4 linked regions of the Homo sapiens genome follow. The main gene of each other region encodes a partner of the protein of the gene in region 3 in a complex. Each region holds a gene or a part of one and is shown on either strand. Other genes may lie near its edges. The genes, in order: ACAD9, NDUFAF1, ECSIT and TMEM186.

The links.
Region 1: the proteins of ECSIT (region 3) and ACAD9 are in contact, whole or in part, in a cryo-EM structure (PDB 8PHE), measured with the Homo sapiens proteins. Residues at the interface, in NP_057665.2 of Homo sapiens: Pro321, Glu322, Glu323, Trp324, Asn325, Leu326, Tyr327, Tyr328, Pro329, Met330, Leu332, Asp333, Leu334; in NP_054768.2 of Homo sapiens: Leu180, Thr181, Asp188, Ala189, Ala190, Ser191, Ile192, Lys228, Lys239, Asp240, Lys241, Ile242, Phe293, Ala296, Met297, Leu300, Ile431, Met434, Tyr435, Leu438, Thr439, Leu441, Gln442, Gly445, Thr449, Leu516, Gly520, Lys521, Ile523, Met524.
Region 2: ECSIT (region 3) and NDUFAF1 share a complex: the UniProt entries of both Homo sapiens proteins name them as parts of the mitochondrial complex.
Region 4: ECSIT (region 3) and TMEM186 share a complex: the UniProt entries of both Homo sapiens proteins name them as parts of the mitochondrial complex.

What each region holds. Positions count from the first base shown.
Region 1 is NC_000003.12:128,910,152-128,914,043, reverse strand, and holds the end of ACAD9 (complex I assembly factor ACAD9, mitochondrial), read right to left. Parts: exon of another isoform or gene 3,781-3,892; coding exon of another isoform or gene 3,711-3,780; intron 3,304-3,710; coding exon 3,231-3,303; intron 1,538-3,230; coding exon 1,437-1,537; 3' UTR 930-1,436; downstream 1-929. UniProt on the Homo sapiens protein: As part of the MCIA complex, primarily participates in the assembly of the mitochondrial complex I and therefore plays a role in oxidative phosphorylation.
Region 2 is NC_000015.10:41,391,835-41,399,731, forward strand, and holds part of NDUFAF1 (complex I intermediate-associated protein 30, mitochondrial precursor), read right to left. Parts: intron 5,307-7,897; 5' UTR 5,226-5,306; coding exon 4,653-5,225; intron 3,211-4,652; coding exon 3,025-3,210; intron 2,525-3,024; exon of another isoform or gene 2,271-2,524; intron 1-2,270. UniProt on the Homo sapiens protein: As part of the MCIA complex, involved in the assembly of the mitochondrial complex I.
Region 3 is NC_000019.10:11,525,661-11,533,974, forward strand, and holds the start of ECSIT (evolutionarily conserved signaling intermediate in Toll pathway, mitochondrial isoform 1 precursor), read right to left. Parts: upstream 3,475-8,314; 5' UTR 3,402-3,474; intron 3,206-3,401; exon of another isoform or gene 3,085-3,205; intron 1-3,084.
Region 4 is NC_000016.10:8,794,136-8,802,709, forward strand, and holds TMEM186 (transmembrane protein 186), read right to left. Parts: upstream 3,505-8,574; 5' UTR 3,480-3,504; coding exon 3,477-3,479; intron 2,456-3,476; coding exon 1,817-2,455; 3' UTR 1,045-1,816; downstream 1-1,044. Other genes in the region: PMM2 (phosphomannomutase 2), read left to right, coding at 3,748-3,813, 7,664-7,775. UniProt on the Homo sapiens protein: As part of the MCIA complex, required for efficient assembly of the mitochondrial complex I.

The sequences.
Region 1 (3,892 bases), on a different chromosome or scaffold from region 3:
TCGCTAGGCCTTTTCAACCCAGATGGATGAATGGAGAACTTGCCATTCTCCATTGGCATGTAAGACTGAGGCCTTACACGCCACCAGCCTAGAGTGAAGCCCCCTTCCAGAAGGCTGCACAGAAGGGGGGTGGGTCTGACAGCCCCTCCCCAAACTTCTCCTGTGCAAAGAAACTCTAAGCAGCCTTCTGTCCAGAGGTATGCATGCTTCATTTTGTGCAAAATGCTGCCCTGCTATCACTAACAGAACTTCAGGTTTCACTGAGAGGTTATTTACACGGTCACAATATTTACAAACTTTCCCCATTTTAAAAACTAGTTACCAAACCCCTGGCAGAATGCTCAGGCCAGCCCCACTCAGCCAGCTCAGCTCTCCAAGTTCCCAGTCTCCTCCTTGCCTATTTCCAGCATCACAGTAAATTGGGAATATACTTGGAGGAAAAAGAGTCGGCTGCCTTCTCTGTGCTCAAGGGAGTGTCCACAATAGGCATTTTAGAGCTCCAGACCACCCAAGGACCACATCAAAGCTTAAAGTTCACCACAGTGAGCACGCTGGGACCTGGTGTAATCTTTCAAGTGCCAGCAGAAGGGAGGCTGGAGAAATGCAAAGGCCTGCTGGCCTGGAGATACCATTCATCCTCTCCTCAAGAGTAGAAGCCAGTTCTTGTAAAGAAACTAAAGTCCCTAGGTGGGAACATCATCAGCTGAGACAGCCTCCCCATCATCTCCTGAGAAGGATAAAAACTAAGGGCTCATAACCCCAAGGGATTGTGGCCTGCACTGTGTGTCTGCTCCTTAGCATTCTGGGCCCTCCTTGCAGGGTGAGGACAAAGGGGACCCGAGGCCATCACCAAAGGGTGGTTCTCAGGGTCCTGCTGTCACCCATTAAAGGCTGGTTCTAAGGAACAGTGTGACAAGTACAGCAAAGGCTAACAGTACACAGATTGTGACATTTTATATTCTTTGTTAAATGGTTCCTGGTACATGTTTTAAGTGCCTCTGCTTCTAGTTTAAATGAATGACCCAGACAGAGCTTTCAAGCTGTTTCTTAGAGAATGTGTGGTTGAGCAGAAATGGCTATCCACACCTGACACAGGTCCCCACCCACCTCACACCCTGGAGGCAGCAGCATAAGCCCCAGTTTCCACTATGGTGTCTCCTCAATGACCAGAATACCCGCCAGTTCCAGGGGTCAGCAATTCCATTCTCTCTCTCCGGCTCAGTTCAGAAGCTGTGATGGTCCTGTTAGAGAGCACTGCCTGCAGGTCAAAACCTGGAAGAGGCTCTCCCAGGCCAGGCGACAACCCTTCAGGTGCAGACGGGGAACAAAAGGCTTAACCTGTGATAATCCCAACACCTTCTGAAAAAAGAGTAACAGTCATCCAGCAACGGGCCATGGGTAGGGGCGGGCGGTAGCAGGGGACACTGTCCCCTGCCTCAGCATGTCCTGTCCAGAGGGTGGGCACAGATATAGGCTCGCTTCTCAAGGATCTGCTGGGACACTTTCTTAATCTGCTCATCTAGGTTTTCTGGAGCATCTGGGAAGGAAAAGGAGAGATGGTGGGTGATCTTTCTGCACCGTGATAAGACAAACATGGCTGAAGTGGGGGCATTTTTCCACAAAGTCAGCCCACCCACCATGAAGCAGCCCTAAGGGTGAACCCCTCCTCCAGACCCCCAGCAAGTGATTCAGGGCTGCAGGGAGAGAAAGGGGTACAGCTTCATTCTCAGTTACAAAGGACTCATCCTGCTCATCTCTAACCCCCAGATCTCATGGGGTGGAGCCGGCACTTGCTCCGTAAACAGCCCATCTGTGATTCCAGCCCACTGGAGGAGAAACCATTTCAGCACCCTCCACAGCACATAACCTGTCAGCACTGGGGGGGTGTCTGGGCTACCCCCAGGGCTAGGACCTGCAAAAAATCATATGCCACTCTCAGCAAGTGCCACAGTGCTGGCGCCTACACCCATCACTTGGCAACACGACTGGGCTTTGTGGGGACACTGATCCAGAACCTCAGGTCAACAGGACTGTGAGGGTCAGAGGTAGACTGAGCTGGGCATTCCTAGATATGGTCGAGTGGCTATAGAAGAGGAAGAGCACTGCAGACAGAGCGGGGAGCACGAGCAAAGCCCTCTGTTCTCTAGGCCAAGGCCTGAGACCTCTGCAGGGCACTGCAGGGTCATTTTGGATGGAGTACAGTGGGTAAAGGGGCAGGTAAAATGCTGTCTCCAGAATCAGGTACAACCAGATGCTCCTCCCTTCGTGAGCCTTCCCCGGGCAGCTTCAAGAATACAGCCAGGGCTGGGCACAGTGGCTCATGCCTGTAATCCCAGCACTTTGGGAGGCCAAGGTGGGCGGATCACCTGAGGTCAGGGGTTGGAGACCAGCTTGGCCAACATGGTGAAACCCTGTTTGTTTCTACTAAAAATACAAATATTAGCTGGGCATGGTGGTGCGTGCCTATAATCCCAACTACTCAGGAGGCTGAGGCACAGGAGTTGCTTGAACCCAGGAGGTGGAGGTTGCAGTGAGCCAAGATCATGCCACTGCACTCCAGCCAGCCTGGGTGACAAAGTGAGACTATGTCTCCAAAAAAAAGAGAATACAGCCAGGCATGCTGGGCAGATGCCAGGGGTCCTGCGCAAAGGGCTCTGCACTTGCTCAATCTAAAATTGCCTTGGCAGGCCCGGTGCGGTGGCTCATGCCTGTAATCCCAGCATTTTTGGAGGCTGAGGCAGGCAGATCACCTGAGGTCAGGAGTTGGAGACCAGCCTGGCTAACATGGTGAAACCCTGTTTCTACTAAAAATACAAAAAATTAGCCGGGCGTGGTGGCGTGCGCCTGTAATCCCAGCTACTCGGGAGGCTGGGGCAGAAGAATCGCTTGAACCCAAGAGGTGGAGTTTGCAGGGAGCCAAGACTGCGCCATTACACTCCAGCTTGGGCAACAAGAGCGAAACTCCATCTCGAAATAAATACATACATACATACATACACACACACACATATATACATACAACTGCCTTGGTGAATGGGGCAGGTATGCACCTACAGTGCCTGGTGGGCACTGCTGCAGCTAAGCCCAGGCCTACCCAGGCCCTCGCTCAAGGCAGAGGTCTGTGAGTAGCTAGCAGGCTCTGGGAGCTTGACAGGGTCCAGAAACAGCTCACCATCAATAGGGGCCTAGAAGTGGGCCCTTCCTTCCCTCCCCCAAGACATGCCACTCACACTTGTCCAGCTGAGAGAGGCTGAAGAGATTCTGCAAGTAAGCTTCCACGCAGAAGGTGTTGGCCAAGAGAACCTGCCAGAACCGAGGACAGAAAAGATATGCCCAAATTCCTGGAATCAGACCTCTGAGCTTCAAAAACCCAGCCTATCAGCCAAACTGGGTAGCATGGCAGGGGTCACAAGGCCTGGCACAGGAGTCACCCCGTCTTGGGTTCTAATTCCAGCCCTGATCCAACAGCCTTTCCCCAACAGCAAGTGACTCAACATCTCTGACCCTGTTTCCTCTGAAAGGCAGATGTCACAATCCTGGTATCTGCAGGTGCTCTGGAAAGTGCAGGCAGAGATCCTGGTATACAGTGGGTCCTCAGAGACTGCACCCGCCTCCCTCCAGCACAGCGGGCAATGTGCAGGGTCTGTCCCTTGCTGGGGGTAGGGGCACTGGGATCAGGAACCCCTGTCACTCACCCCCTCTTCTCTCAGTCAGGAAGAAGAAAGGGAACAGCCCCATCTCCTGAGCAGCACAGACCCTCCCACGGCCACCGCATGGTGAACCTGCACAGCCTCCCCCACACCCGACCACACCCTCCTCAACAATCAACTTCATTAAAGTGCAGCAGGACAGATGGCAGCAGCCAGGCCCTGTGTGAGGCTGGGCTGGGCTC
Region 2 (7,897 bases), on a different chromosome or scaffold from region 3:
GGAAAGAGAAAGCAGGTGAAGACATGGGGGCAGAGCATTACAGCAGAGCAACACTAAGTGCAAAGCTCTGAGATGGAAATGAGGTTGTTAAATCTGACAGAAAAGGGGCTGGTGTGGAGGAAGGAGGTAGGAGGAGAGATGGAAGATGAAGACAGGAGGAGAGATGGAAGATGAAGACAGGGGTCCGATATTGTAGGCCCATAGGCCATGTGCAGGAGTTTGGACTTTATTCTTTTTTTTTTTTTTTTTTTTTCTTGAGATGGAGTCTTACTCTGTCACCCAGGGTGGAGTACAGTGGCGCGATCTTGGCTCACTGCAACTTCCACTTCTCAGGTTCAAGCGATTCTCCTGCCTCAGCCTCCTGAGGAGCTGGGACTACAGGCGTGTGCCACCACCTGCTGCTAATTTTTTGTATTTTTAGTAGACACAAGATTTCACCATGTAGACCAGGCTGGTCTCAAACTCCTGACCTCAAGTGATCTGCCCATCTCAGCCTCCCAAAGTGCTGGGATTAAAAGCATGAGCCACCTAGCCCAGCCTGGACTTTATTCGAATTGTAATGGGAAACCACTGAAGGGTCCTGATATGGTTTGGCTGTCTCCCCACCCAAAATCTCATCTTGAATTGTAGTAATCCCCATGTGTCAAGGGAGGGACCAGGTGAAGTTAACTGAACCATGGGTGTGGTTTCCCCCATACTGTTCTAGTGACAGTGAGTTCTCACAAGATCTGATGGTTTTATAAGGAGATTACCCCTTCATTCGGCTCTCATTCTCTTTCCTGCCACCATGTGAAGGAGGATGTGTTTACTTCCCCTTCTGCCATGATTTTATAAGTTACCTAAGGCCTCCCCAGCCCTGCAGAACTGTGAGTCAATTAAACCTCTTTCCTTTATTAATTACCTAGTCTCAGGTATTTCTTCATAGCAGCAGCACGAGAACAGACTAATACAGCTTACATGCTTAGGAGGTACATTTACATGCTTACAAGCATGTAAATGATGTCATCTGAACTATGCTTCAGAAAGATAACTCTGGCTGCTGTGGAGCCAGGATTTTAGTGGGGCAAGAAGACAAACAGGGAAATCAATAATGAAGCTGCTGCAATAATCCAAACACCTGGACCAGGGTGGGAGTAGAAGAGATGGCTAGAAATGGTCAGCTGCTGAGTGTATTTTGGAAGCAGAGGTGACAGGACTCGCTAATAGACTGGATGTGGGGCAAAGGAGAAGAATTCAGGATGACCCTCAAGTATATGACATGAGCAAAATGGGGACTTTCTTGTTGAGTTTTTTTTTTTTTTTTTTTTTGAGACGGAGTCTTGCTCTGTTGCCCAGGCTGGAGTGCAGTGGCACGGTCTCAGCTTACTGCAACCTCCACCTCCCAAGTTCAAGCAATCCTCCTGCCTCAGCCCCCCTAGTAGCTGGGATTACAGGCACACACCACCATGCCCGGCTAATTTTTTTTTTTTTTTTTTTTTTTTTGAGACGAAGTCTCCCGCCCAGCCTGGAGTGCAGTGGCACGATCTGCAAGCTCTGCCTCCCGGGTTCACGCCATTCTCCTGCCTCAGCCTCCTGAGTAGCTGGGACTACAGGCACCTGCCACCAAGCCCGGCTAATTTTTTTTGTATTTTTTTAGTAGAGACGGGGTTTCACTGTGTTAGCCAGAATGGTCTCCATCATCTCCTGACCTCGTGATCCACCCGCCTCAGCCTCCCAAAGTGCTGGGATTACAGGCGTAAGCCACCGCGGCCGGCCTTTTTTTTTTTGAGATGGAGTCTCACTCTGTCGCCAGGCTGGAGAGCAGTGGCCCATCTCGGCTCACTGCCACCTCTGCCTCCCAGGTTCAAGCGATTCTCCTGCCTCAGCCTTCTGAGTAGCTGGGACGACGCCACCACACCCAACTAATTTTTTTATTTTTAGTAGAGACAGAGTTTCACCATGTTGGCCAGGATGGTCTCGATCTCTTGACCTCGTGATCTGCCCACCTCGGCCTCCCAAAGTGCTGGGATTACAGGCATGAGCCACCGCGCCTGGCCTCTAATTCTTGTATTTTTAGTAGAGATGGGGTTTTGCCATGTTAGCCAGGCTGGTCTCAAACTCCTGATCTCAGGTGATTTACCCACCTTGGCCTCCCAAAGTGCTGGGATTACAGACATGAGCCACCACGCCTGGCCTAGGACACTACTTTTTTTTTTTTTTTTTTTTTTTTTTGAGACAAAGTTTGGCTCTTGTTGCCCAGGCTGGAGTGCAATGACACGATCTCGGCTCACCGAAACCTCCGCCTCCTGGGTTCAAGCAATTATCCTGCCTTAGCCTCCCGAGTAGCTGGGATTACAGGCATGCGCCACCACGCCCAGCTAATTTTGTATTTTTTTTAGTAGAGACAACAGGGTTTCTCCATGTTGGTCAGGCTGGTGTCGAACTCCCAACCTCAAGTGATCCGTCCGCCTTGGCCTCCCAAAGTGCTGGGATTACAGGTGTGAGCCACCACGCAGGCCTAGGACACCAACTTTAGCAGAGTTGCCTGGAAGACATGAAATGGCAGAAACTTCTAAAAAACAAACAAACCCCATCTATTTGGACACAGAGCAGAGATGTGCCTGTGACTTAGCATGGACCTGGCCACATCCATATCAAAAATATTCACTAGTTAGTATGTTAACATTTATATTAATGAAACAAAATTCATTTATGTCTCTTAACCTTTCTTCTACCCACCCACCCCCACCTTCCAAGAAAGATTAGTAACAAAAAAGAAACTACAATGTAACAATCATCTCCAAGACTTTTTTTTTTTTTTTTTTTTTTTTTTGAGACAGAGTCTCATCTCACTCTGTTGCCCAGGCTGGAGTACAATGGCACGATCAGAGACTAGGTTTCACCATGTTGGCCAACCTGGTCTCGAACTCCTGACCTCAGGTGATCCACCCACCTCGGCCTCCCAAATTGCTGGGATTATAGGCGTGAGCCACCTCACCCAGCCAAGACCTCATTTTTATAAACAATGAAGATTTATGCTGTTACCTTGACCTCCTGCCAGTAGGGTCCCCCGCGGGTGAACATGAAGTAACTATACATCTGATTCGTCCTCTGGAAGAAATCTGTGTCCTCCTTGATATTCACCATCCAAGGCCGACCATCCCCACGTACACGGAGATACAGAGTATTGAACTGGGACCAATCGTAAGACATCTTCCTCTCAAAAGCACCCTAAGATATTGAAAGTAAAGTTCATTGTACCTCATTCTCCATTATTAGCAAAATGTGAGTCATCACCAAGTCAGCATCATCAACAGGATGCACTAACCATTTTTCTGACTTTCTGCCCCATAAGAAGGCACATAAACCCAGTGATTATTATTTTAGCACAAAATACTGACATAGTTATATGTTTCTAAGGTAATGTTCAACACACAACTGGCCCAGGACAGTGTTTACATGGGGTAGGCACTCACCTGTGTTCAATGAATGGAAATGAATGTATTTCCTTTACCTGGTCGTATGGAGCAATGACTTTTTCTTTTCTTTTCTTTTCTTTTCTTTTTTTTTTTTTGAGACGGAGTCTTGCTCTGTCACCCAGGCTGGAGTGCAGTGGTGCAATCTCAGCTCACTGCAAGCTCTGCCTCCTGGGTTCACACCATTCTCCTGCCTCAGCCTCCCGAATAGCTGGTACTATAGGCGCCCAAAACCACACCCGGCTAATTTTTTTGTATTTTTAGTAGAGACGGGGTTTCACCGTGTTAGCCAGGATGGTCTCGATCTCCTGACCTGGTGATCCGCCCACCTTGGCCACCCAAAGTGTGGGGATTACAGGCATGAGCCACTGCGCCCGGCCTTTTTTTTTTTTTTTTTTTTTTGAGACAAAGTTTCGCTCTTGTTGCCCAGACTGGAGTGCAATGGCACGATCTCAGCTCACTGCAACCTCTGCCTCCAGAGTTCAAGCAATTCTCCTGCCTCAGCCTCCCAAGTACCTGGAATTACAGGCATGCACCACCATGTCCAGCACTCTGGGAGGCCAAGGGTGGGGTGGATCACCTGAGGTCAGGAGTTCAAGACCAGCCTGGCCAACATGGTGAAACCCTGTCTCTACTAAAAATACAAAAATTAGCTGGGCGTGGTGGTGTGCACCAGTAGTCCCAGCTACTCAGGAGGCTGAGGCAGGAGAATCGCTTGAACCTGGAGGGCGGAAGTTGCAGTGAGCCGAGATCACGCCACTGCACTCTAGCCTGGGCGACAGAGCAAGACTCCGTTTCAAAAAAAAAAAAAGAAAGCCACAGGCTAACCCTACATCCACTCTACAAAACCCCTGGTCATTACAGAGGTTGTGGTCTTTTTTAGAGGAGATGAAAATCTCTCCAAAAATCTTTCAAATGTCTAACCTCTCAGGATTCCTGAAACATAACAATGCTCGTTCCTGGCCCAAAGCAATGCGCAGAAACAAGTTAACTCCTCCTCCTCAGAAACCACTTCCCCCTTGTGCTTCCACTTCACACTTGTGCCAATAGTTACTTATCCCCAGACACAGGTGAGGTGCCAAATATAACATGCCAGGTGTTTTCATTTACAGAAACAAAAGCTATCTTCTATAGTTTATGCTACAATGAAGTTCACCCCTGTTTACTAGAAAACGATGGCTCCTGGGCCTCACCTACCCTTGGAATCCTGGATATCATTGCACAGTACCCACTTCGGGTAGACTCCCCGTCCTGAGGCGCCTCAGAGCTCAGAGTTCCATATAGCAGTGCACTTTGGTTATTCTTGCCCATTTTCAAAAACACTTCACTTCTGCCTCCAATCGTCTTATCAGAAGTCACTGTCCACTTATCCAAATCTTCTTTCCCCCGGAATTGCCAGACAACCTTGGCTTGTTCCAGCAAGACCTCATGCAGAGGGTGGCCTTCCGGTCCTCTCCAATGATCCACAATTTCATCCTTCAAAAGCCTAAAATGGTATATTGCTTCATCTCTAATTGCTTTATCGAAACTAACATCAGGCTTCTCCTCAGAAGAAGTTATATCCAAAGCAACTTCTTTCTGGTGATCTCCTTGCAAATCCCCTTCAGTCTTCCTCTGTGAGGAGGCTTTGCCAGGAGAAGCCACTGGTTTCTGAAGACTACTGGAATACTCTGCAAAGCGAATACCCAAAAATGGATACAAGGCAGAAGTTGGCTTAGAGAATTTTCTGAGAAAATAAGTACCACGCAGCAATTTGTGAACCAAAGCCATGGTACAAAAAAATCAAAATGTAAGTTTCTTCCTGGGCTAGCAAGGGCCACCAAGAAGCTTCAGCAAATAGCCCAATTCTACCTATAACAGAAGAGACATTGAAGAATTATCAGCATAGCAATGAATGCATCACAATTTCAAATTCAACAGAAATCAGGTATTTTGAAGTTTGTTAACTTATTTGTTTACTATTATTATTATTATTATTTGAGACAAGGTCTTGCTCTGTGGCCCAGGCTGGGTACAGTGGCACAATCACAGCTCACTGTAGCCTCTACTTTCTGGGCTCAAATGATCCTCCCATCTCAGCCACCCAAGTAGCTGGGATTACAAGCACACACCACCATGCCCAGCTAATTTTTAAATTTTTTGTAGAAATGGATCTCCCTGGCCAGGCACGGTCCCAGCACTTTGGGAGGCTGAGGTGGGTGGATCACGAGGTCAAGAGATAGAGACTGGGCCGGGCGCGGTGGCTGACGCCTGTAATCCCAGCACTTGGGGAGGCCGAGGCGGGTGGATCACGAGGTCAGGAAATCGAGACCATCCTGGCTAACACGGTGAAACCCCGTCTCTACTAAAAATACAAAAAATTAGCCGGGTGTGGTGGCGGGCGCCTGTAGTCCCAGCTACTGGGGAGGCTGAAGCAGGAGAATAGCGTCAACCCAGGAGGCAGAGCTTGCAGTGAGCGGAGATCCCGCCACTACACTCCAGCCTGGGCGACAGAGCGAGACTCTGTCTCGGGAAAAAAAAAAAAAAAAAAATTGAGACCATCCTGGCCAACATGGTGAAACCCCGTCTCTACTAAAAATACAAAACTTAGCTGGGTGTGGTGGTGCGCACTTGTGGTCCCAGCTACTAAGGAGGCTGAGGCAAAAGAATTCCTTGAACCTGGGAGGAGGAGGCTGCAGTGAGCCAAGATCGTGCCACTGCACTCCAGCCTGGCAACAGAGCGAGACTCTGTCTCAAAAAAAAAAAAAAAAAAAAACAGAAAGAAAGAAAAAGAAATAGATCTCCCTGTGTTGCCCATGATGGTTTTGAACTCCTAGGATCCAGTGATTCTCCCCTCGGCTTCCCAAAGTGCTGGGCTGTAGGAATGATGCACTGTCCCCGGCCTTTTTTTTTTCTTTTCTTTTTATAAGAGACTGGGTCAGGCCAGGTGTGGTAGCTCACGCCTGTAATCTCAACACTTTGGGAGGCCGAGGCGGATGGATCACCTGAGGTAAGGAGTTCGAGACCAGCCTTGACAACATGGTGAAACCCCATCTCTACTAAAAATAATCCAGGCGTGGTGGCAGACGCCTGTAATCCCAGCTACTAGGGAGCCTTAAGCAGGAGAATCACTTGAACCCAGGAGGCAGGGATTGCAGTGAGCCGAGATCACGCCACTGCACTCCAGCCTGGACAAGAGCAAAATTCCATGTGAAAAAAAAAAAAAAAGAGACAGGGTCTCTTGCTCTGTCACCCAGGCTGCAGCGCCGTGGCAAGATCGATAACTCATTGTAGCCTTGAACTCCTGGGCCCTGGACTGAAATGATTCTCCCACCTCAGCCTCCAAGGTAGCTGAGACTACAGGTGCACACCACCATGCCCAGCTAATTTTTTTAAAAAATGTTGGCCGGGTGCCGTGCATCACACCTGTAATCCCAGCACTTTGGGAGTCCAAGGTGGACGGATCACTTGAGGTCAGGAGTTCAAGACCAGCCTGGCCAAAATGGTAAAACCCCATCTCTACTAAAAATACAGAAATTAGTTGGTCATGTTGGAGAGCGCCTGTAATCCCAGCTACTGGGGAGGCTGAGGCAGGAGAATCACTTGAACCCAGGAGGCGGAGGTTGCAAGTGAGCCGAGATTGCACCACTGCACTCCAGCCTGGGTGACAAAAGTGAAATTCCATCTCAAAAAAAATAAAAAAACCAAAAATTGTAGCCCGCCACAGTGGCTCACACCTGTAATCCCAGCACTCTGGGAGTCTTAGGCAGGCAAATGACTTGTCGTCAGGAGTTGGAGACCAGCCTGCCCAACATGGTAAAACCCCGTCTCCATTAAAAATACAAAAATTGGCCTGGCACGGTGGCTCATGCCTGTAATCCCAACACTTCGGGAGGCCAGGGCAGGCGGATCACCTAGGACAGGAGTTCAAGACCAGCCTAACCAACATGGTGAAACCCCTACAGAAAATACAAACAATTAGCCAGGTGTGGTGGCCCATGCCTGTAATCCCAGCTACTTGGGAGGCCTAGGCATAAGAATCGCTTGAACCCAGGAGGCAGACGTTGCAGTGAGCCGAGATCGTGCCATTGCACTCCAGCCTGGGCGACAGAGTGACTCCAACTAAAAAAAAAAAAAAATTAGCTGGGCATGGTGGTGGGCACCTGTAATCCCAGCTACTCGGGAGGCTGAGGCAGGAGAATCGCTTGAACCTGGGAGGCAGAGGCTGCAATGAGCCAAGACTGCACCATCGCACTCCAGCCTGGGCAACAAAAGTGAAACTCTGTCTCAAAAAAAAAAATACAGGCCGGGCGCGGTGGCTCACGCCTGTAATCCCAGCACTTTGGGAGGCGGAGGCGGGCGGATCACGAGGTCAGGAGATCGAGACCATCCCGGCTAAAACGGTGAAACCCCGTCTCTACTAAAAAAATACAAAAAATTAGCCGGGCGTAGTGGCGGGCGCC
Region 3 (8,314 bases):
GGAGGTCCAGGCCAGCTGATCACCTGAGGTCGGGAGTTCGAGACCAGCCTGACCAACATGGAGAAACCCTGTCTCTACTAACAAAAAAAAAAAAAAAAAAATACAAAATTAGCCGGGTGTGGTGTATGCTTGTAATTCCAGCTACTTGGGAGGCTGAGGCAGGAGAATTGCTTGAACCTGGGAGGCAGAGCTTGTAGTGAGCCAAGAGCACACCATTGCACTCCAGCCTGGGCAACAAGAGCGAAACTCCATCTCAAAAAAAAAGCAAAATCTCGGCCCTATCCCAGACCTACTGAACTGGAATCTGCATTTTTTTTTTTCCCAGGCGGAGTCTTGCTCTGTCGCCCAGGCTGGAGTGCAGTGGTGCAATCTTGGCTCACTGCAACCTCCGTATCCTGGGTTCAAGCAATTATCCTGCCTCAGCCTCCCGAGTAGCTGGGATTACAGGCACATGCCACCATGCCTGGCTAATTTTTGCGTTCTTAGTACAGACAGGGTTTCACCATCTTGTCCAGACTGGTCTTGAACTCCTGACCTTGTGATCCACCTGCCTTGGCCTCCCAAAGTGCTGGGATTACAGGCATGAGCCACTGCGCCAGGCCCAAATCTGCATTTTAGCGAGTCCCTGGTATCTCCTGTGAGCATTAAAGTTTGAGAAGTGGTGATCTGTGTGCTGATGGCTCCCCAATGTTCACCTCAATCCCTGGGCCCCAGCCTTTATACCTAACTGCCACTTTGGCATATACCCAGCCATCTCAAACATAATTTGCTCCAAACTGATATCCTTGCTTAAACTTGATCCTCTCCATCCTATCCAATCGCACCACTACTACTGGCCATTCAGGCTACAAACCTAGGAGACATTTCTGAGTCCACTATGTCCCTCACTCTCCTATTCAATCCATCAACTAGTCTAGGTGACTACTTCCAAATCCATCCCAAATGCATCTCTTTCTATCTGAAGCCACCACCTCAATCTATGACTTGGATACCTATCAAGCCTCCCACTTTTGCCCTTCCTGCCTCCAGTCAGTTCTCCCCACTATGGCCAGAGGGAGCTTTTTTTTTTTTTTTTTGGAGACAGAGTCTCACTCTGTTCCCCAGGCTGGAGTGCAATGGCGCATCTCGGCTCACTGCAACCTCCGCCTCCCCAGTTCAAGTTGGTTCTCATGCCTCAGCCTCCCGAGTAGCTGGGACTACAGGTGTGTGCCACCACACCCAGCTAATTTTTTGTATTTTAGTAGAGATGGGGTTTCATCATGTTGCTCAGGGTGGTCTCGAACTCCTGAGTTCAAGCAATCCACCCATCTTGGCCTCCCAAAGTGCTAGGATTACAGGTGTGAGCCACCACACCCAGCCAGAGGGAGCTTTTAAACTAAAATTAGGCCAGGCGCTGTGGCTCACGCCTGTAATCCCAGCACTTTGGGAGGCTGAAGCAGGTGGATCACAAGGTCAGTTCAAGACCAGCCTGGCCGAGATGGTGAAAGCCCGTCTGTACTAAAAATACAAAAATTAGCCAGGTGTGGTGGCAGGCACCTGTAATCCCAGCTATTCGGGAGCCTGAGGCAGGAGAATCACTTGAACCTGGGAGGTGGAGGTTGCAATGAGCCAAGATTGTGCCACTGCACCCCAGTCTGGGCGACAGAGCGAGATTCCATCGCTAAATAAATAAATAAATCAACTAAAATTAGTGATTTCTGCCTAAAATCGCTAACGGCATATCACACTTAAAATCAGAGACTGGGCACACTGGCTCATGCCTGTAATCCCAACACTTTGGGAGACCAAGGTAGGAGGATCACTTGAGCCCAGGGATTCAAGACCAGCCTGGGCAACATAGAGAGACCCCATCTCTACAAAAAAATTAAGAATTATCCAGGCATGGTGGTGAATGCCTGTCATCTCAGGTACTCAGGAGACTGAGGCTGGAGGATCCTTTAAGGTCAGTAGTTAGAGGTTGCAGTGAACCATGACTGCACTTGTGAATAGCCACTGCACTCTAGCCTGGGCAACATACTGAGATCCTGTCTCTAAAAATAAATAAATAGCCAGGGAGCAGTGGCTCATGCCTATAATCCTAGTGCTTTGGAAGTCCAAGTGGGGAGGATCGCTTGAGCCCAGGAGTTCAAGACCAGCCTGGACAACATAGCAGGACACGATCTTTACAAAAATTATTTTAAAAAATTAGCTGGACCTGGTGGTGTGCACCTGTAGTTCCAGCTACTGGGAAAGCTGAGGCAGGAGAATCACTTGAGCCATGGAGTTTGAGGCTGCAGTGAGCTATGGAGTGCACTGCACCACTGCACTCCAGGCTTGACGAACAAGTGAGATCCTGTCTCTAAAAAATAAAAATAAATAAATAAAATCAGATAGGGTCTACCCCTCTAAACTCAACTCCTACCACTGGCAGCTTCAGCTACACTGTTTCTGAAAGAAACTAAGTTTATCCCATCTCAGAACCTTTGTACTTGCTTTTCTCTCTGTCTAGAGCTTTCTTCCTCCAGATCTGCCCACAGCTGTCTCTGGTCATTTCAATGAAAGGTCTTCTTTGACCATCTCCCATTCCCCACATTCTAAAAGCCCTCATCACCCTATTAATTTTTGTTTCGGAGACAGGGTCCTGCTCTGTTGCCCAGGCTGGGGTGCAGTGGCACAATCACGGCTCACTACAGCCTCAACCTCCTGGGCTCAAGCAATCCTCCCACCTCAGCTTCCCGAGTAGCTAGGACTACAGGCGTGCACCACTACGCCCAGATAATTTTTTGTAGAGAACAGGGTCTTGCTATGTTGCCAAGGCTGGTCTCGAAACTCCTGGGCTCAAGCGAAATTCCCGACACCATTAACGCATTTTTAGTAACTTATCAGTATCTGAAATCACCTGTTTCGTTTATTTCTAATTTGTTCAAAGTCTGGTTCCCCCAGGAGATGAGAGATTTTTATCTATCTTCCTCATTGCTGTGTCTCCAGCACCAAGGACAGTGCCTGGTATATGACAGATGCCTAACGAGTAACAACTGAACGGAAACAAGCCTCAATTTCAAAAAAACACCTATAAATCTGAACCCCGAGGTATGGTGTACGTACAACAGCTTTGAAACCGGCTGCCAGGATTCTGGGTCTCTTGGGGGAAAAAGGCAGACGCGGATTCCAAATCCTGCCCGGTTGCCGACTTGCGGCGTGACCTCTCGCGAGGTCATCTGCAAAATGGGAGACTGGGGGCGTGAGGCGGCTGGCACAAGACAGGCGGCCTTTCCCAGCGCGTCCCCGCCCCCACTACGAAAGGTCATGGCGCCCTGGCCCTGCAGCTGGGTCCCTCCAGGGCTGCCCTCTCGCGCTGCCGGGTCCTGAAGGGCCCGCCTGCAGCCCAGCAGTTCGCGTTCGCCTACCCGCGCGCGACCTACCTACTCACGCGGCCAGCCGCGGACTCCAGGCCAGCTCTGTCTTGTTGCTGGGCGCTGCCATATTGGCCCAGAGAGCGTCCGGGTCAGGGAGCTCCAGGGAGGTAGCAAATCAAGAAAGCTGGTGTAATAGGTCCCGCCCACAACGCGAGGTGGGCCAATAGGAAGGCGGAAGGATCTGGGACCCGCCTCATAACGAGCCAGGCCCAGCCTCTAATGAGGCAAGACGCACTCCAGACCTGGGAACCTTGAAATGGCCCGGGAGGCTGGACTTGGGAGTCATAGTCTATGAATCCAGTCGCAGGCCCCAGCGGCTGAAATGAGAAAATGAATTAAAAAAAAACAAAAAGTGAAAGGGGGCCGGTACGGTGGCTCATGCCTGTAATCCCAGCACTTTGGGAGGCCAGAAGTTCGAGACCAGCCTGGGCAACATAGCGAGACCCCCTTATCTACAAAAAATTTAAAAATTAACTGGGCATGATGGCGCATGCTCATAGTCCCAGCTATTCGGGAGGCTGAAACGGGAGGATCGCTTGAGCCCTGGAGGTCGAGGCTACAGCGAGCCATGATTGCACCCCTGCACTCCAGCCTGGGCAACAGAGTGAGACCCTGTTTCTAAAAATAGTAATAATAAATAAATAGGGCAGGGCGCGGTGGCTCACGCCTGTAATCCCAACACTTTGGGAGGCCGAGGCCTGCGGATCACCTGAGGTCAGGAGTTCGAGACCAGCCTGGCCAACATGATGAAACCCCGTCTCTACTAAAAATACAAAGTTAGCAGGGCATGGTGGTGGGTGCCTGTAATCCCAGCTTCTCGGGAGGTTGAGGCAGGAGAATCGCTTGAACCCGGGAGACGGAGGTTGCAGTGAGCCAGGATAACACCACTGCACTCCAGCCTCAGCAACAGAGCGAGACTCTGTCTCAAAAAATAAATAAATAAATAAAAATTAGTGGGGCGTGGTGGCGTGCTCCTGTGATCCCAGCTACTCGGGAGGCTGAGGCACGAGAATTGCTTGAACCCAGGAGGTGGAGGTTGCAGCGAGCCGATATAGCACCACTGCACTCCAGCCTGGGCGACAGAGTGAGACTCCGTCTCAGTAAATAAATAAATAGGAAGGCCTCAGTGAGGTGTCCTTTGAGTAAAGGCCGGAGGAAGTGAGTGAGCCATCTGGATATCTGGGGAACGCTTTTGGCACTGGGAACAACAGCAAAGACTCTGTGTGGTCGGAGTGGAGTCTTTGGAGGAAATGGGATAAAACGAGGTGAGATTGAGTAATGGGGGCTCCTGGTCTCCCCCAGAAAGCACCAGATTTAGGCTGTTAATAACTAAGGTGGATAAGCACATAAAATGGGCTATTGGCAATAACAGTGTCCCCCGGGAAGGAAGGCTATCTGCCCTCATAAGCCCATTTCTGCAGTCCCTCAGCCTCTGTGGCGCAGTGAGCTGGCATGGAGACTAGGATGCAAGAACCTACCCTTAGGATGCCTCAAGGACTCTGCGCAGCCGCAGGACATCCACCTCATCAGAACTCTTGTGATTGGGCAATCTGAGAAAACCTGTAGCCAATCAGCTGCTTGGCTGGAGCACTCCTCTCTGGCAAGTTGACAGGCACGTGGGCAGCGGCTGGGAGCGCTACTGCCCTCTGCCAGGCTCCCGCAGCTACAAGCAAGCAGAGTCAGCTCTGCTTAGCTGGGGAGTGGGTAAGATGATGGGGTCGCTGACCTGGCTGTGGCCTTCAGAGTTATTGGTGTCCTTCTCTTGAGGTGGTCATGGCTTTTGTTTTCTTATTTATCCTTCCAGAACTAGTCTTTTAATATTTTATTTTATTTTATTTTATTTTATTTTTGGAGACGGAGTCTGGCTCTGTCGCCCAGGTTGCAGTGCAGTGGTGCAATCTCAGCTAATTGCAACCTCCGCTTCCCACATTCAAGCAATTCTCCTGCCTCAGCCTCCCGAGTAGCTGGGACTACAGGCGCATGCCACCATACCCGGCTAATTTTTGTATTTTTAGTAGAGATGGAGTTTCACCATGTTGCCTAGGCTGGTCTCCAACTCCTGGGCTCAAGCAGTCCTCCCGCTTCAGCCTCCCAAAGTGTCAGAATTACAGGCATTAGCCACCGTGCCCAGTCATTATTATTATTTATTTATTTATTTATTTTTTGAGACAGAGTCTTGCTCTGTCGCCCAGGCTGGAGTGCAGTGGCACGATCTCGGCTCACTGCAAACTCCGCCTCCTGGGCTCACGCCATTCTCCTGCCTCAGCCTCCCCAGTTGCTGGGACTGCAGGCGCCCGCCACCATGCCCAGCTAATTTTTTTGTATTTTTAGTAGAGACGGGGTTTCACTGTGTTCTCCAGGATGGTCTGATCTCCTGACCCCGTGATCTGCCAGCCTCGGCCTCCCAAAATGCTGGGATTACAGGCATGAGCCACCATGCCCGGCCTATTATTATTATTTTAAAATAGAGATGGGATCTTAATATGTTACCAAGGCTTGTCTCAAACTCCTGGGGTACTGCGATCCACCCATCTTGGCCTCCTAAAGTGCTGGGATTATAGGCATGTGCCACCACACCAGGCCAGTAGTCTTTTAAAAACAAGTAGGTACAGGCCGTGCGCGGTGGCTCACGCCTGTAATCCCACCACTTTGGGAAGCCGAGGCGGGTGGATCACGAGGTCAGGAGATCAAGACCATCCAGCCTAACAAGGTGAAATCCAGTCTCTACTAAAAAAAATACAAAAAATTAGCCAGGCGTGGTGGTGGGCGCCTGTAGTCCCAGCTACTCGGGAGGCTGAGGCAGGAGAATGGTGTGAACCCGGGAGGCGGAGCTTGCAGTGAGCCGAGACTGCACCACTGCACTCCAGCCTGGGCGACAGAGCAAGACTCCATCTCAAAAAAACAAACAGACAAACAACAACAAAAAAACCAAGAATGTACATATTTTATGTACTGTATGTATTAACACAGAACACCATATGTGAGGCCCTGGTGCAGAATCTTTAACATTACAGTCCCAGAAAGAACCCTATAAAAAGTAGTAGCTTCACAGTGAAAGATCCTAGCAGACACCACCTTAACCAAGGGACCAACATTTATATCACCAGCAATGAGTCATGGTGATATCATGAAGCCCTTGGTATGACACACTTAGAAGGATACATCATCACCTCTCTGGTATTCTTCCTGGTAATGCAAACACCTCAGTTTATTCAAGACAAACCAAACTCGAAGACAGTCTACAAAATAACTGACCAGCACTCTTCAAAAGTGTCAAGGTCCTGAAAGACCCAGGGACTATTATAGACTGTAGGAATGTATGGAGATATGACAATTAAATGCAATGAGGGCCAGGCACAGTGGCACTGTAGTTCTAGCTATTTAGGAGGCTGAGGCAGGAGGATCACTTGAACCCAGGAGTTCAAGTCCAGCCTGGGCATCATAGTGAGACCTCATCTCTAAGATAGATAGATAGATAGATAGATAGATAGATAGATAGACAGACAGACAGACAGACAGACAGACAGACAGAAAGAAAGAAACGCAATGGGCCGGATGCGGTGGCTCACACCTGTAATCCCAGCACTTTGGGAGGCCGAGGCAGACAGATCACAAGGTCAGGAGTTCAAGACCAGCCTGACCAACATGGTGAAACCCCCTGCCTCAGCCTCCCATGTAGCTGGGATTATAGGCTCCCACCATTACGCCCAGCTAATTTTTGTAGTTTTTGTAGAGATGGGGTTTTACCATGTTGGCCAGGGTGGTCTTGAACTCCTGACCTCAGGTGATTCACCCGCCTCAGCCTCCCAAAGTGTTGGGATTACAGGCGTGAGTCACTGCACCCAGCTGGAGTCCCCACTCTTAACCACAGCGCTACAGTGTCTTCATTTAGTTGAAACAACATGCTATATGTTTTAACTTCAACTTTGTCTATCTCCCTTGTCCCAGGTTGATGGGATTTATAGTGATTTATTATGACAAGGCCACTGCAATAAATGTTCCTGTACATATGTCATTCTTCACACCTACACTTGTACTTCTGAGGAATATTCTAAAATAGAGGATATACTTGTTCAGAAGGTAAGGACATTTGTCATTTGGGAAACTATCAACAAATTGCCCACACTCATCAACAATGTTCCCACAGCCTCCTCTGCGTTACATGTTGTCAAGCATTCTTTTATTTATTTATTTATTTATTTATTTATTTATTTATTTTTTTGAGACAGAGTCTCGCTCTGTCGCCCAGGCTGGAATGCAGTGGCACGATCTCAGCTCACTGCAAGCTCTGCCCCACAGCTTGACGCCATTCTCCTGCCTCAGCCTCCCAAGTAGCTGGGACTACAGGCGCCCGCCACCACGCCCGGCTAATTTTTTGTATTTTTAGTAGAGACAGGGTTTCACCATGTTGGCCAGGATGGTCTCGATCTCCTGACCTCGTGATCCGCCTGCCTTGGCCTCCCAAAGTGCTGGGATTACAGGCGTGAGCCACCACACCCGGCCGTCAAGCATTCTTTTCTTTTCTTATTTATTTATTTTTCACCCAAACTAAAATGCAATGGCATGGCTGGACACAGTGGCTCATGCCTGTAATCCCAGCACTTTGGGAGGCCAAGGCAAGCAGATTACCTGAGGTCAGTAGTTCGAGACCAGTCTGGCCAACATGGTGAAACCCCATCTCTACTAAAAATACAAAAATTAGCCCGGTATGGTGGTGGGCACCTGTAATCCCAGCTACTCAGGAGGCTGAGGCAGGATAATTGCTTGAACCTGGGAGGTGGAAGTTGCAGTGAGCTGAGATCATGCCACTGTACTCCGGCCTGGGTGACAGAGTGAGATTCTGTAAAAAAAAAAAAAAAAAAAAAAATAAGCAGTGTCATGATCATAGCTCACTGTAGCCTCCAACTCCTGGGCTCAAG
Region 4 (8,574 bases), on a different chromosome or scaffold from region 3:
AGGGTCACATATTGTATGATTCCATTTATATGAAATATCCAGAACAGGTGAATCCAGAGGGACAGAAAGCAGGTTAGTGGTTGCCAAGGGCTGGAAAAAGAAGGAAATTATTGCTCAATGGGTATATTAGTTCTGTTTGGGATAATGAAAATGTTCTGGAAATAGATGGTGGTGACGGTTGTACAACATTTTTTGTTTTGTTTGTTTTTGAGATAGTCTGGCTGTCTCCCAGGCTGGAGTGCATTGGTGCAATCTCGGCTCACTGCAACCTCTGCCTCCCGGGTTCAAGCTTCTCAAGTAGCTGGGAATACAAGTGCCCACCACCATGCCCAGCTAATTTTTGTATTTTCAGTAGAGACAGGGTTTTGCCATGTTGGCCAGGCTGGTCTTGAACTCCTGACTTCAAGTGATCCACACGCCTCAGCCTCCCAAAGTGCTGGGATTACAGGCATGAGACAGTGTGCCCAGCCTGTACAACATTGTTAATATACTTAATGTCCCTGAATTGCACACTTAAAAATGATTAAAAGGATAAATTTGTTAGGTGTATCTTGGTATGGTTAAGAAAAATGGAAGGCTACACAATAAAAAAAAATATTTTTTTTTTGAGACGGAGTCTCACTCTGTCGCCCAGGCTGGAGTGCAGTGGCGTGATCTCGGCTCACTGCAAACTCCGCCTCCCAGGTTCACACCATTGTCCTGCCTCAGCCTCCCGAGTAGCTGGGACTACAGGCACCTGCCACCACGCCCAGCTAATTTTTTTGTATTTTTTAGTGGAGACACGGTTTCACCCTGTTAGCGAGGATGGCCTCGATCTCCTGACCTCGTGATCCGCCACCTTGACCTCCCAACGTGCTGGGATTACAGGTGTGAGCCACCGCCCCCAGCGATAAAACATTCTTATTGACTTTCGAGTGGCAAAATAATAAAGATCATGCCTTCCTTCCTCTTTACTGTGTTACAAATTGTATAATGAACATATATTATTAATTATGTGGGGCAATGTATATAACTGGCTTAAGTTTATAAAATAACGTACCAGCATCCGGTGCATTTGGCTTTATTACACTGCAGGGCCATCCAAAGCAAGAGCCTCTAGACCTCTGGGTGGTGAACAAATCTCAACTGGGGTTTCGTGCCTACCTGGACGACATCTGCTCGTCAATGTGTAGTTAACATCCTGACAGACCCTTCTGCCGCTGGATATGTGAGGGGCACAGCACAGGGCTCTGGAAGTCCCTGCTGACTGCTCGAAGCCTTTCTCCCTGCTAAAACCTCTGACCAAATGCTTAATAATATCTGCTGTAGGCTGTTGAGTCTGCCACACGTTTGACATTTATTGTTTATTCCCACACCCATCCCATGAAACAAGCAGGACTTTCCATTTTACAGATGTGAAAACCAAGATTCAAAGAGACTCAATAACCTGCTCCAGGACAAATGACAGAACTGAGACTTCTGACTCCAAATCTTACGCTCCCCCGCCACACCTCTTTGCCTTTCTCTTTCACACCAATGGACTCTATGGGTGACCTTGGCATAGGTTCTTCTAAGAACTGGCTCTTAACAAAAACTTCTGGCCATTATCTGACTGAATGTCACAAACAAGTGCTGTAAGAACTTGCTTAGAGCCTTTTTCCTAAACCTGTACACCAGCTCTTGCCTTGTGAATTTATTCACCACAAAACACATGTTCCCAGGGGCCCAGGCAAAGTCTCCAAGTACCCAGTCCCCTTTCTTCAGCCTTGCCCACACCCTCAGCCTTCCTGTTAATCCAGGCGACCCAGGGTTACCCAGAGGTCCAGGTCCCAGTTGTTCACTTGAGCATCTGATGTACCCCAAACACCTGTGTGAAACGCTCTCTGTCCAGGATGCGTCCATAGCGCAGGGTGACGTAGAAGGTCTGTTTCCCACTGTACCGCTGGATACGCACAAACATCTCCTGAGGCCGGTCCTTGGTTTCTGTCAGGGGAATCACATCTGCCATGGGACAGTATGTGTCCTGCCGCCAGCCCCAGAAGTTCAGATGGGCCACCCGCAGCATGGTGCCAGACTCATTCAGATACAGGATACCAACCAGTCTCCGTAAGAAATAGCTCATCCAGCACAGCATGGTCAGGGCAAAGCCCGATATCCCACTCATGAGGCACACGGTGTTGAGAGTGAGGAGGCCCTGGGAGTACAAGTAATAGCCTGGTGGCAAAGCTACCACTGTCAGGGCAGTCTGTGCCAACTTCAGTCGTGACAGGAACCCGAAGGTTCTGATGGCATCAAAACGGTAAAACATCCAGAATTTCTCAGTCTCTGCGTTTGGTAGTTTCTCCTTCGAGATGGGTGAACTGCTGCCCACCCACCTCTTAGGATCCTCCTGCCCACTGCAGCACCACAGCCCATGGAGAGGCCTTTCCCACACAGCTTTTCCCCGAAACCTACGCACAGCTCGGAGAAGGGCAGCCTGAAAGGGAGACAGTAGACCATTTCTCTCATGGAACTCAACCACATTAATCACACGGTGAACATCTGCAAAGCACCATACTCTAAGGCTTCTGCCAATCCTGCAAGGTAACCGTTATTGCCAGACGAGGGAAGGGTAAAGCCAGATGCTATCTCATGTGGGCATCACAACAGCTATCTAAGATAGTTATCACTATTTCCACTTTACCACTAGGGAAACTAAGCCCAGAGAGGGTAAGATATTTACCAAAGATCACACAGTCAGTGAGTGCAGCAGAGTCCTCCTTCCACCAGGCAATTCCAAATAAATACAGGAAAGGAGGTGCGGCCGTCATTAATTCAAAACATATCCAGGGAGGACAAACTCTGGGCTGGACAATGTATCCACAAGGGGGTGTGAACATTTCCCCAAGCAGGAAACTAAATAATCAGTGTCTTAGTGGGGAACTCGAGCAACAAATCTGTGAGATATTTATTCCAATAAACTTTCTAATTCTCTGTTTGATTCATATGCTATCTTGGGTGCTGGAGGGAACTGCTGCTTTCTCTTAGCCTAGTCTGGGGAAGGGGAAACAGCGGAGAAGGAGAAGGAGCGAGGCAGGGAGGCCCCAACACGTAGCACAAGGGTATTACTAGGTGGGTAGTGAAGCAGTAAAAGCTCTTATTCCAATTCTGGCTCCAACAGTAATTTGTGAGCAAATTACTCCACACCCCTGAGATTCGGTTTCTTCGCCTTTCAAAATGGGGACTCAGAACACAGTGAACCAGAGGATGGTTTCAGAGTCCTCAACTTAGTACCTAATGCACTGTGAGAGCTCGGCGAGTTTTAGCTACTACTACTGTGCGCATGTGACCCAAGGAGGGCAAGAGAAAGCCCGGGAAAAGCGAACTGTAACACACGCCAGAGCTTCCTCCCACGGATCCTCGGAGTCCGAAACCCGAGCGTCGGGCCTGCCCGCCCCAGCCCTGACCCCGACCCCAAAGAGCATCACCCCCTCAAGGCTCGCCACCCGCCTCCTTACCATGGCCCCACCACCTGCTGCCGGAAGTAAATCCCACCGGCCCCCGGAACCCCTAAGAGCGCATGCTCGAATGTACAAGGCGGGCGTGATCTGCGTTGCACCCTGGGAGTTGCGGTCCAGGAATCGTGGCTGCCGCTACTCCCAGGCGTTATGGGAACGGAGTCCCCTCCTCTTCCCGACGTGCCCTGCGACTCAGCGGCCGAACCCGGAAGTTCCGGGCCGAGTTCCTCGTGCCAACGTGTCTTGTAAGGTGCGGCTAGAAACTGGGGACATGGCAGCGCCTGGCCCAGCGCTCTGCCTCTTCGACGTGGATGGGACCCTCACCGCCCCGCGGCAGGTAAGTGGCGGCCGGCGGGCTGCTGGCAGCCGACGCGGAGCCCGTGCTGTTCCCAGTTGGGGCTATCGACCACCCAGGGTAGGCGCCAAGGGGTGGCTAAGGACCGCCTACGTCCTCACGGCGCTGAACCCTATTCTGGGTGCACTGGAGGAATGAGAGGGAGGCCCTAACCAGCTCTTGAAGAGCTCTGGTGCTTGGAAAGATGAGACGGGGCTGAAGAACTCTTAAGAGCAGGAAACTTGTGCTAGGTTGGAAAATGTAATCTGGACTCACCGCTAGTGCTCGGGACTGATAGACCAGGATTTCAACCCAAGATCAGGCCCCCTTATCAGCTATGTGTCGGCCCCAATCCTGTAACCAATGGGCTGTGCCGTGAGTCATGATATTAAAAACAGGTTTCCAGGTCAAACCGACCTAGTGGAGTCTCATCTTCACCTCTTGACATCTGTGTGACCTTCAGCGAGTCATTAACCTCTCTGAGCCTCAACATCTACAGCTTTAAATGGGGATGTTACCTGTTCCATATGGTGTCTGTGAGGATCAAATGAGATTGTGTAAGTTCTTGAAAGTATGTTGGACACAACACACTAGGCCTCAGTAAATAGTAGCCACCTCCACCACACCCATCTCCAGCCCCTGCAATGGACTAGGGAGATGGAGGAGCCCTAGGTTATTACAGGCTGCCCGCTGAGAGCCTCTTTGGGCCCTTGGAAACTTGCTTTCCACTTTCAGATTTTGCTGCTACAGGCACAGATAAGTTTCAGTTACGATCAGCCTTGAGGTGAGGCTCTCCTGGCCCCTTTTCAGAAATTGGCCACTGAACACTGGCCATTTCAACTTGAGACTGGACCCCAATGGTCTCACTATCCTCAGCTTCTACCCTCACCCCTCATAGTTTTCGCTTGGTGGTAACAATGGTGTGCTCCAGAAGTCCAGGTCAAATGCGTGTGACCTTAGACGTATCATTTTGCCCTTCTCAGCCACAGGTTTGATTTACCTAGTGATGACGCTCAACTCCCAAGTTCTTCAAAGGCTTTTTCTGATTCTGAAATTCAGTGATCACACACTTGGGTTTGTTAAAAGCCCATAGTGGTCTAAAACTCCGGTCCCCAATTCATTTTTTGTAAAGGGCCATATAGCAAATACTTCTCTGTCTTTGCTGACTATGTGGTCTATAGTAACCACTCAACTTTAGTGCAAAACCAGCCATAAACCCTATATAAATAAGAGTGGCTGTGTACCAATAAAATTTTATTTATTTATTACAAAAACAAACAGCTGCCCAATGTGGTCTGTGGGCCATAGTGGTCTAGGGTTTACATTGCCACCCTTTTTCATATCACTGAACCCTCTCAACCTTCCTCCATCTTTCTTCCCAGGTAGGATAGTTGTTATTACCGTTTTAAACATAAGGAAACACACTCAGTGAAGAACTAACCTCCTCAGTTTCACACAGCCAACCTGGTACAAGTCTCTGGGCCTCAGGATATTGGTTCCTGTCAAGTTTGCCATTTCCTATCTGTGCTAAGGTGGAAGCTGTTCTAGTCACTGGGTATGCCATTCAGGAAAGTGCTTCTGATTTTCTGATTTTCACAGTTCTGACTCTTTTTTTTTTTTTAAGACAGAGTCTCACTCTGTCACCAGACTGGAGTGTAGTGGCCCAATCTCAGTTCACTGCAACCTCCACCTCCCAGGTTCAAGCAATTCTCCTGCCTCAGGCAACCAAGTAGCTGGTGCTACAGGCAGGCACCACCACGCCTGGCTAATTTTTGTATTTTTAGTAGAGATGGGGTTTCACTGTGTTGGCCAGGATGGTCTCTATCTCTGGACCTCGTGATCCACCCGCCTCGGCCTCCCAAAGTGCTGGGATTACAGGCGTGAGCCACCGTGTTCTGACTTTTAAAGGCCACTCCTCCAATTCTAGATTCTGTCTAATAGGTCCAGATTCCACTGTGAGAGTAGAAAAGATTGCACTCTATTACAAACCCTTCTGTACAATTTTAATCACATTCATGTATTACTCTAAAAAAGTTTTTTAAAGAAAAATCATTGAACTCCAAGTGTTTATATACTGAGGTTGAATTAAATGGTTTTTTGTATTTTCTAAATTTCTAGTAAAAAGATATTCAGCCGGGCACGGTAGTTCATGCCTATAATCCCAGCACTTGGGGAGGCTGAGGCGGGTGGATCACTTGAGGTCAGGAGTTCGAGACCAGCCTTGCCAACATGGTGAAACCCAGTCTCTACTAAAAATACAAAAAGATTAGCCGAGCATGATGGCGGGCGCCTGTAATCCTGGCTACCTGGGAGGCTGAGACAGGAGAATCGCTTGAACCCAGGAAGTGGAGGTTGCAATGAGCCGAGACCACACCATTGCACTCCAGCCTGGGTGACAGAGCACGACTTCGTGTCAAAAAAAAAAAAAAAAAGACATTCAGTGTAAATGTACAACTGAGATTGCTCAAAGTGCTGAGTTATAAGACTTGTAAAAATACATTGTGATGTGTCTTAATGTAGGGCTATTTTTTCATCTTAGTTTATAACTTTTTTAAAATTATCACACAGTTTGGAATTTACCATAAGATTATACCACTAAGACCACTCTTTCTAGATAGGAGCTTTGCTTTTAGAAGAGACTAAAAAATCTAGTTATCTTACTCTTTTACATTTTTGTTTTGTTTTGGGTGATTGCAATAAAATCAATTCTAAGCTTCTCCTTTTTTTTTTTTTTTTGTTTTGTTTTGTTTTGTTTTGAGACGAAGTCTCGCTCTGTGACCCAGGCTGGAGTGCAGTGGCACGATCTTGGCTCACTGCAACCTCTGACTCCCGGGTTCAAGTGATTCTCCTGCCTCAGCCTCCCGAGTAGCTGGGACTACAGGCGCCCACCAGCGCGCCCGCCTAATTTTTGTATTTTTAATAGAGACAGGGTTTCGCCACGTTGGCCAGGCTGATCTCGAACTCTGACCTCAGGTGATCCACCCGCCTCGGCCTCCTAAAGTGCCGGGATTACAGGCATGAGCCTCCATGTCTGGCCCTAAGCTTCCTCTTTAATTTCATTATGTTGTTTTATTTTAAAATCAACAACTTAAATCCATAAATGGAGTATAGTGTAGCATTTAAAAGGAATGATGAGCTAGATCTGTGTTGGCATGAAAAGATCACCACAGCATAGTGCTGAAAAACCAAAGTCCCTGCACAGGACATGATTCCATTTATGTTTCAAAAATAAGACCTATTTGTATATGTGCCCATAGATGGGTATATAAATGCATAGAAAAATAGCTGGGACAGTGCACAACAGCTACTAACATATTACCTGTGTTTAAAATTTGGTAAAAATAACACTTAAGTTTATTCTGGTAAAGATGCCCCCCCAGTTACAACTAAAATATTTGAACTATGTACAGAGCTGGTAACTTAATTGGCATGTATGAAAATAAGGCTTATAGACCTGGCTTATACCTGTAATCTCAGCACTTTGGGAGGCCAAGGCTGGTGGATCTCCTGAACCCAGGAGTTCCAGACTGGCCTGGGCAACATGGCAAAACTTAGTCTCTACAAAATATAAAAAAATTAGCCAGGTGTGCTGGCACATAACTATGGTCCCAGCTACTCAGGAGGCAGAGATAGGAGGATCACCGGAGTCCAGGGAGGTCGAGGCTGCGATGAGCTATGACCATGCCACTGCACTCCAGCTTGGGTGACAAGTGAGACCCTATCTCAAAAAAAAATTTTTTCTTTAATTTTTAAATAAGAAAATAAGACTTATGTACTTGTGTTACCCTTAGAGTTTTGGTCTCCTGATTATTGTGTGGCTTATGACTGTTGTATTTTCTTTCTTGAAATTTAGAAAATTACCAAAGAAATGGATGACTTCCTACAAAAATTGAGGCAGAAGATCAAAATCGGAGTGGTAGGCGGATCGGACTTTGAGAAAGTGCAGGAGCAACTGGGAAATGATGGTAAATGATGGGTTGCTAATTACATCTGGTAAAAGATTAACTTCTTATGAGGATATTGTTGCCAAGTATCATAGGCTGCCCTAAAACCTTGTCCCCATATGGCGGGCTTTCTGCTTCCTTTTTTGGGAAACATTTTCTTGGCCTTTGCTTTTCCTCTGCTTTTAATCCAGTACATTTCTGGAGTTACTGATGGAGAACTGGGTACTCAGATGTGTGAGTAGATTCACCTAGAAAGGTCAGTGGCTGTATCTGCACATGATAATCTCTCTGCCTGGAATACTTCTTGCTTGTACCCGTTGACAGCCCTTCTAGCCCCAGTCAGACCGGTCTTCATATTGTCCCTCTGACAGCCCCCCTCACCTCCCCATCACTGAAACAGAATCTCCAGCACAGGACCCCGAAAAACCAGAGAGGCTTATTGACCCCTTCACTGGAGAGTCTGACTTGATAGGTCTGTGGAGCCTGGGAATCCTATTTCAGTGAGTACCTCTGAGAGATTCTAGTGTACAACCTTGCTAATGTAGCATTCTGTAATTATTGTAAACTATCCGATTATATGTTTTTGAAGAGCAGGAGTATGGGTTATTCATCTCCATAGCCACAGGGCCTCCTGGCCTGTAAGAAATTGTAAGTGGATGCCAGGCGCGGTGGCTCACGCTTATAATCCCAGCACTTGGGGAGGCCGAGGCGGATGGATCACCTGAGGTCAGGAGTTTGAGACCAGCCTGGCCGACATGATCAAACCCCATTTCTACTAAAACTACAAAAAATGAGCTGGGCGTGATGACGGGCACCTGTA